Linked DNA regions of Homo sapiens: region 1 is linked to region 2. The links come from fine-mapping of genetic effects on gene expression. A gene starts in region 2. The other region holds a variant in brackets. All regions are shown on one strand. Distances are between the middles of the regions.

Evidence for each region. PIP is the estimated chance that this variant, and not a neighbour inherited with it, causes the effect.
Region 1: its variant is the best candidate, but not a certain one, in a credible set for the expression of FNTB in tibial nerve (GTEx, PIP 0.86).

What each region holds. Positions count from the first base shown.
Region 1 is chr14:65,014,482-65,019,002 of GRCh38, reverse strand. CHURC1-FNTB (CHURC1-FNTB readthrough) reads right to left here. Exons shown (of 14, transcript NM_001202559.1): 6 at 3,287-3,378. FNTB (farnesyltransferase, CAAX box, subunit beta) reads right to left here. Exons shown (of 12, transcript NM_002028.4): 4 at 3,287-3,378. It also overlaps a transcript of MAX not described here. Among named protein-coding and RNA genes, the nearest start is that of MIR4706, 28 kb to the left of the region's middle. The variant G/A (reference allele first, on the strand shown) is at 2,239.
Region 2 is chr14:64,985,314-64,989,534 of GRCh38, reverse strand. It overlaps FNTB (farnesyltransferase, CAAX box, subunit beta), which reads right to left and starts at 2,640. Exons shown (of 12, transcript NM_002028.4): 1 at 2,438-2,640. The coding sequence starts at 2,581. All of the region lies in intron 3 of CHURC1-FNTB (CHURC1-FNTB readthrough), which reads right to left. LOC107984655 (a long non-coding RNA gene) reads left to right here and starts at 2,422. Exons shown (of 2, transcript XR_001750792.2): 1 at 2,422-2,855; 2 at 2,936-3,996.

The sequences.
Region 1 (4,521 bases), 29 kb before region 2:
TCCTGAGTAGGATTACAGGCATGCGCCACCACGCTTGGCTAATTTTGTATTTTTAGTAGAGACGGGGTTTCTCCATGTTGGCCAGGCTGGTCTCAAACTCCCGACCTCAGGTGATCCACCCACTTCGTTCTCCCAAAGTGCTGGGATTACAGGTGTGAGCCACCGCGCCTGGCCTTTTTTTTTTTTTTTTTTTAAGACAGAGTCTCACTCTGTCCTCCAGGCTGGAGTAGAGTGGCATGATCTTGGCTCGTCGCAACGTCCACCTCCCAGATTCAAGCAATTCTCCTGCCTTAGTCTCCCGAGTAGCTGGGATTACAGGCATACACCACCAAGCCAGGCTAATTTTTATATTTTTAGTAGAGACAAGATTTCCCCATGTTGGCCAGGCTGGTCTCGAACTCTTGATCTCAGGTGATCTGCCGACCTTGGCCTCCCCAAGCCCTGGGATTACAGGTGTGAGACACCGTGCCCAGCCCAGAAAGTTTATAAAATCACTTTTAACCCCATCGTCCAGAAATAACTACTACATGTATCTTTCTGGTTCTATCTATGCATATCATCATCTATATTTTTAATGTATGTAAATTAAATCTTTTAAACTATTTTCATTTCACATCTCTCTATATAAATACATATATTTTAACATACAAATATACACATTCATATATTTATTGAGACAGGGTCTTGCTCTGTTGCCCAGGCTGGAATGCAGTGGTGCCATCATGGCTCACTGCAGCCTCAAACCCCTGAACTCCTGTCTCGGCCTCCTGAGCAGCTAGAACTAGAAGTGTGCACCACCACGCCCAGCTATTTTTATTTTTATTTTTGAAATGGAGTCTCACTATGTCGCCCAGACTGGTCTTGAATTCCTGGGCCCCAGTGGTCCTCTGACCGTGGCCTCCCAAAGTGCTGGGGTTACAGGTGTGATCATGCGTGGCCACATTTATACATTTTTTAATGGTTATATAGTATTTCACAGAATGTACTGCACCATAAATGACTTATGTTTTATTTTTTAAATTTATGTATTTTATTTATTTATTTTTTTGAGATGGAGTGTCACTCTGTTGCCCGGACTGGAGTGCAAAGGCGCAATCTCGACTCACTGCAACCTCCGCCTCCTAGGTTCAAGCGATTCTCCTGCCTCAGCCTCCCGAGTAGCTGGGATGACAGGCATGCACCACCATGCCCAGCTAATTTTTGTATTTTAGTAGAGATGGGGTTTCACCATGTTGGCCAGGCTGGTCTCAAACTCCTGACCTCAAGTGATCCACCCACCTCAACCTCCCAAAGTGCTTGGGATTACAGGCGTGAGCCACCACACCCAGCTTTACATTTAAAAAAAATTTTTTTTAAACATTCTCTACTGTTGATATTTAATTTAGATTGCTTCCAATGAAAGGCCCTTTAAAGGCTCCTCTCTTCCTATGTGACATTGCCCCAGAAGCGGCGCTGACACTTCCTCAGAAAAGCCTTCACTATAAAACACCAAGTACACAGCCTAGAAAAAAACTCAGTCGATTTTGGCTCGAGTTCTTCCACCTCAGGCACCCCCTGTGATTCTCTCTTCCAGTTTTTCATGGGTCTGCGGCCTCCTCCATCCAGCGTTCAGATCCAGGCTCACAGAAATCCCCATTTTTTCTTTCTTCTCTCACACCCAACTTTCCCATTGTGCAAGAGTGAAGGGAAAACTTTCCAAATATCCTGATTGTGTAGGAGTGAAGGGAAAACTTCCCAAACAATCCCCAGGCCCCCGAGCTGGTATTTCAAAAACACACGAGGCTGGATGTGGTGGCTCACACCTGTTATCCCAGCACTTTGGGAGGCCGAGGCAGGTAGATCAGCTGAGGTCAGGAGTTCAAGACCAGCCTGGTCAATATGGTGAAAGCCTACCTCTACTAAAAATACAAAAATTAGCCAGGCACGGTGGTGGGTGCCTGTAATCCCAGCTACTCAGGAGGCTGAGGCAGGAGAATCGCTTGAACCCGGGAAGCAGAGGCAGCAGTGAGCTGAGACTGTGCCACTGCACCCCAGCCTGGGTGACAGAGTGAAACTCTGTCTCAAAAAAAAAAAAAAAAAAAACCACGTGGGCCTTTCTTTGACAATTAAATTCCTGTTACTGCAGAAACTGTGTCCAACTCTCCTTCCAGTGCTGGAAGCAGCCAGGCTTGCAGTGGCATCCCGATGATCAAAACAATGCACTTGCCTCTCCCTCAGAAAGCATCCTACGTACCACAA[G/A]GGTTAATGGCCTAATTCTTTATTATCTTCCCCATCCACATTCATCACAAGACACCCTGCCCAGGAAGGCAAGAATGAGAGGTTATTGTTAAGACAGAATGAATGAGACAATGTGCAGTTCTGTTCCTCTGACCTGACAATGTGACTGAGGCAGGGGCTCTGTGACCAGAGAGGGGCCCCGGCTAGGCCTCTGTGTGTCCCAGCACAGCTGCCTCCTTGTGCTGTGGAGAAACAAACCTGGCTCAGAAGTCTCTCATCCCAGATGCTTCGACCTCAAGAGCACCAGAGGAAGCTGAGAAATTCGAGATGCTGCCTAGAGCCCATGCTGCCTCTCAGTGGATCTCTTGGATCCAATTCCTGGCTGCCCTTTCTTATTCCAGGTATCCCTAGGACTGGAGTCATGATCAGTCTTTTCTTCTTTAATATATAAATGGTGATGAGTGTCTGGGAATGAGATGCCAGATCACGAATGCCATCTGTACAAGGATCTTGGGAAGAAGCTCAGTTGCTTAGATCTCTAATCATCGATCAGGTTTAGGAAAACTGAGAGTCATGGCATTTGTATGCCACACCAGTAACACATCCAGTCCCATCAAGAGCTACATGGTCGCTCCAAGCACCGGGAGCGGGGAGGTACTTCTATAGAGGTGCGTAGGAAAGGCAAAGGCATTTTTGTTCACTGGACTGGCACGTGCTTCCCCACAGAAGCTGTTCAAATGCATACTGTACTTTCTGGCAAAATCTTGTCTCTCAGAGTTGATGATTAAGACTTTTCTCAAAGACCAGAGTCAAGAGCCAAAAGAAAAGGCCACAGAAGAAACCAGAATCCTTCTCTTGGAAGTTCAAAGTCTTGTTCTACCCACCAGCTTACATTAGTTTTCTAAAGTGGAGGAGTTTCAGGAAGTTGCCGGAGGTCATGAGAAGAGCAAAGATTTCTTTGTGGCACTGTTTTTTTCCATTCCAAACAAACAAAACAGAAACAAAACAAAATCCCAAACTCAAAATACAATTTCAGAGAACACCCCAGATTTCCCAAAGACAGACTCACTCTGTAGCCACTATCTGGGGGATGGGTTCATCTAGCAGTTCCAAGCTGTGCAGGATCCAATAGCAGAGCCATGGGCGGCTGGCATCCAGACACTGGGAGAGAGACAGGAGAGAAAACATCCCTTATTCACAATCACTCCAAGACACTGCTGCCAAGGCTGTATCTGTCTCACTCCCAGCAGCCTGGCAAGGGGGAGGAGGGCACCCTTGCTCAAACAACAATCAGTGAATAAAGGACACTTTGCTTTGTGGCCTTAGCCAGGAGCTGAAATGACCATCTGTTAAAAAAAAAAAAAAAAAAAAAAAAGATAACAAGGCTGGGCGCGGTGGTTCATGCCTGTAATCCCAGCACTTTGGGAGGCCAAGGTGGGTGGATCATTTAAGGTCAGGAGTTCAAGACCAGCCTGGCCAACATGGCGAAACCCTGTCTCTATTAAAATTACAAAAATTAGCTGGGCATAGTGATGTGCGCCTGTAATCCCAGCGACTTGGGAGGCCGAAGCAGGAGAATCACTTGAACCCGGGAGGCAGAGGTTGCAGTGAGCCGAGATGGCACCACTGCACTCCAGCCTAGGCGACAGAGCAAGACTCCGTCTCAAAAAAAAAAAAGAAAGAAAAGAAAAAAAAGACAACAGGATTAAAAAAAAGATGACCCTGAACCCAGTGGATCCCTCCCTGGCAGGCATCTAAGGAAGGCTGAGCAGAGGACTTCCTACAGGCCAGGAGGTTAGGGGCTGCTATTTTCTCGGTATAGAACCAAGGAGATATACATTCTCTGAAGAGATTTCCTAGCTTAACTCAATCACTGATTCAACAAATATTTGATAGTATCTACTTGTGCCAAGCACTGTATTAGACACTGGGGGGATGATAATAAAATTTGGTTTCTACCGTTTATTTTTTTGAGACAGGGTCTCGCTCTGTCACCCAGGCTAGAGTGCAGTGGTATGATCTCAGCTCACTGCAGCCTCAACCTCCCGGGCTCAAGCAATCCTCCCACCTCAGCCTCCTAAGTAGCTGGGACTACGGGCACACACCACTATGCCTGGCTAATTTTTTAAGTTTTTATAGAGACAGCATCCCACTATGTTGCCCAGGCTGGTCTTGAACTCCTGGGCTGAAGCAATTCACCTGCCTGAGCCTCCCAAAGTGCTGAGATTACAGGCATTAGCCACCATGCCTGAACTGGTTTCTGTTCTTGAGATGCTTGGGATATAGAATGTGTGTGGTTACCTG
Region 2 (4,221 bases):
TTTAATTTGAAAAGCTTTCATCTTAAATAGACACAGGGTCTTGCTATGTTGCCCAGGCCAGTACCAAAATCAGTATAGTCGTTTTTTGTTTTAAGAGACAGGGTTTTACTCTGTTGCCCAGGCTAGAGTACCGTGGCTCGATCATGGCTCATCTGTGAACTTCTGAGCTCAAAAACAATTCACCCACCTCAGCTTCCCAAGTAGCTGGGACTACAGGTGCATGCCACCACGCTCAGCTACTTTTTTTTTTTTTTTTTTTTTTGGTAGAGACAGGGTCTTGCTATGTTGCCCAAGTTGGTCTCTTGGGCTCAGGTGATCTTCCCGCCTCGAACTCCCAAAGTGCTGGGATTACAGGTGTCAGCCATCAATTTGTTTTTACTGGCAATGGCACAAAATTGAGCTATCAGTAAATGGAAGCTTTAGTTAAAACTGAAAGAGTACTAGTATATCCTCTGTAAACAACTCCTCCTAACAAGGTTGTTACTTTTGATGAATGTATCATTAACCTACCAATGTGGTAGGTCTCTAAACCTCAGTCTTCTCATCCATAAAAAGTGAAAGGATTGAATGATACCACATATGGAGAGCATTTAGCACTGTGCTGAGACTCAATAAATGGTCACTAACATGATTATTAAAACAGTGAGGAAGGCCACAAAAATGAGATACAACATTATCATCCTACTACCTGAAACTGTTCATCCTAGACTCTAATAATGTGTGCTGGAATAACAACATGAAAAAGAAATATAAGATTCTTTACTGTCTGCCATACCGTTGGGTCTAGATTTGAAAGATACTCGCACCAGGAGCAGTGGCTCACGACTGTAATCCCAGCACTCTAGGAGGCCGAGGAGGGCAGATCACTGGAGGTCAGGAGTTCAAAACCAGCCTGGCCACATGGTGAAACCTGTCTCTACTAAAATACAAAAATTAGCCAGGCGTGGTGGTGGGCGCCTGTAGTCTCAGCTACTCTGGAGGCTGAGGCAGGCGAATGGCGTGAACCCGGGAGGCGGAGGGTGCAGTAAGCCAGTGCATCCCAGCCTGGCAACAGGGCGAGACCCCATCTCAAAAAAAAAAAAAAAAAAAAAGGCAATCCCATAGTCTAAGGTCAGATAATAAGTAAAACACTTGACCTGAATCAACTCAGCAATCCATCATTTAGGAATTCTGCAAAGATCCTGTAGGTTTTTCATCAATGGGAAATTTCTTTACAATCTTTTGCAGTCAGCCTTCCCTGGGACACACTGGTAGGCAAACCAACCTGGAGAATTAGCTAGATTCGAGAGGTGAGGATTTCCTTTGCTACCCTAAATTCCATGAAGTTTAAATCTCCAGTTAAAATATTTTCTCTGCTACTTTGTGAATAACCACGTATCAAGCCCTTGTTTCTGTTATAAATTTATAATTCTATTTAGTCATAACTGTACAATAAAACAATTATTGTTACTAATTTTGCCAAAGTACAGGCTTCCAACTTAAAGTAGGAAATACAAAACAGGTCTCTCCAAGGTAAAGCCTGGAGACTGATCTCACTAAGAGATCTTATTTCAGTAAGCAGCAGAATGTTCATTTATTAGTGTTAAGAATTATCCTAACCACTTCTCCTAGGGACAGATGGATAAACAGTTCCACATAGCAACCTTGGGAACAATTCCAATTAGGGAATAAGAAGAAAAACAAAACTATGGTTTTGGGCATATGAATATATACTCATTCGCCAAACACTTTTCAAAATGATAGGTTCGATCCTACTTCTAGGCCTTAGGGAATGATTAGTAGTCCAAAATCCATTCTTTCTATTAGATCACTTTCCAAACTGTTTTCCTGCCTGTCCCCCAACCAGGCTCCTGGTCAGGAGCTGTTTTATTTCCTTGTACTTCCATCGTTTAATATTGTGTCCGACACGTAGCTGGTGCTCAAATGGCTGAATGACTACCAAAATGCCCACCCACGAGGCGGGCCCCCAAACCTGGCACTGTAGGTCAAAAATTAAACAGATCGTGAAACGGCATGACAGCAGCCTGGCCCTGCTCTCTGCCTCCAGAAGCTGAGGGCAGGTTGGGAAAAGTGCACTATGCACCCCAGAACCTCCCGAAGTACTGGCAGAACAGAGTGGGCTGTCCGACCCGCACGGGCTGCCTCTGTCCTCCAGGCATAGAACACGATTCTTCTCGTTCTTTAGGGCAGAGGGGACTCGGCTACTGCCCTCTCCTCCAAGCCCAACCTTGAAACGACCCTTCCCCAAGCTGGCCGCGCAAACGCTCCACGACGAAGCCCAAGCCTGGGCGCCCGGAGCTTCCCAGAGGAAAGGCACCGCGGTGCGCTGTGGGAGTCGTAGTTCCCCGGTGAGTTCCGCACCCGGGCGGCCCTACGAACGGGACTCGCGCTCCCAGAACACATCGCGCGGGCGCCTCGCCCAGTCCTGCCACCTCACCTGTTCTATGGACGTGACTGTTTCCACCGAGTCGTCCTGCAACCGCTCTCGCGCGTGCTCGGGCCTCAGACTGTACAGCGGCTCTGACCAGACGGGGGAGGAAGATGGAGGGCAATAGTAGGTGAAAGAACTCGGAGAAGCCATGATCAGGAGAGCAGCAGACAGTGTGTAGGACTCTGCTTCGTTAAGCAACAACGCGCATTGAAACTCGAGCGGGCTAAAGCGCTACGGCGAGCGGATAGAGGCAAAAAGATTTTGAACGCGAATGTCTCCTCCCGCCTACCCGTCTTTCGAGTGAGTTACTGAGATGCTGCCGCCCCCCATTGGGCAGAGGAGCTGCTGCAAGAGCGTAGAGTCCTGAAGCGCAAGGGTGTCTACATCCGAATTTCATTTCAGCGAGATGGCGTAGGACGCCTCGGTTTGTTACGCAAATTGTTAAAGAACTGTAACATTCTGCTAATTCTCACTTAATTGTAATGCAATTGTTTGCAATTTCAGGTGCCCAAGAACCCAATGAATGTTAAGTTTGAAAGCATTTCTGACAGCTCTACTGATTTGCCTCAGTCAGGCAATTACTAAAAGAATTATTGTGCACCTTGGGGTACTTGACAGCCTCCCAGGAGAAGGCAGCAGCTGCTCAAACGTGCAAGGACGCCGTCTCAGTATCACTCAGTGATGGAGGGAGGGGGGTATTATGATTTTCTCCTGTCTCTTGGAGGTTACACTGCAGTAGCGAGAACTGAAATGCAGTACAAGGAACAAGGATAAGTGAAATAGACAGTCAGTCCGCAGATATTTATGGAACACCTGCTATGTGTCAGGCATTGTGCTAGGTTCTAGGAATACAAAAGTGAACAAAACGAAGTCCCTTCCCTTGGAAACCTTACATTCTAAGAAAATCGACAGAATTGAATGTATCCAACGCAATAAATATATGAAGACTTGTGATAAATGAGATGAAGGAAAATAACAGGGTCTATGAGAGAGACTAAAGGGGTAAGAAACTAATTGAATTGTATGGTCAGGCCAAGCCTCTCTAAATGACCTTTCATTTGAGATCCGAAGGATGACGAGGAGTCATCCAGAAGAACAGTATGGGAAAGAACTCCTGAAAAAGGAAGAAACAGCAGCTTTTAGAAGACATGTGCTGGGCACGGTGGCTCACGCCTGTAACCCCAGCACTTTGGGAGGCTGAGGCAGGAGGATCACTTGAGGAGTTAGAACATCCTGGGCAACATAGCAAGACCTCATCTCTATTAAATATCAAAAAAATTAGCCGGGCGTGGTGGCGCATGCCTGTAGTCCCAGCTGCTCGACAGGCTAAGGTGGGAGGATCTCTTGAGCCCAAGAAGTCGAGGCTGCAGTGAGCTATGATTGTGCCACTGCACTCCAGCCTGGGTGGCAGAGCGAGACCCTGTTTCAAAAAAAAAAAAAAAGCAAAACAAAAAAACAAACAAAAACCATAGGCTCAAGTGACCCTCCTGCCTCAGCCTCCTGAGTATCTGGAACTACAGATGCTCACCACCACGCCCAGCTAGAATAAAAGAAATTCTTATTGATTCTTATGGAGTGGACTTACTCATCACACTTGCCTCCAGAACAACCAAGTTTAAAGTTGTGATTTTTAGGAAAACGCTGCTACCTTTGGACAAGCAATAGAAGAGAATTTATTTTAGGGCATGCATCAAAAGTACTACACCAAAAATTATAATACCAAGAGATTAAACTGGGGGAGTTGTATGTAGGAGATTATAGAAGGTATGATAACAGACATTCCGGGTACA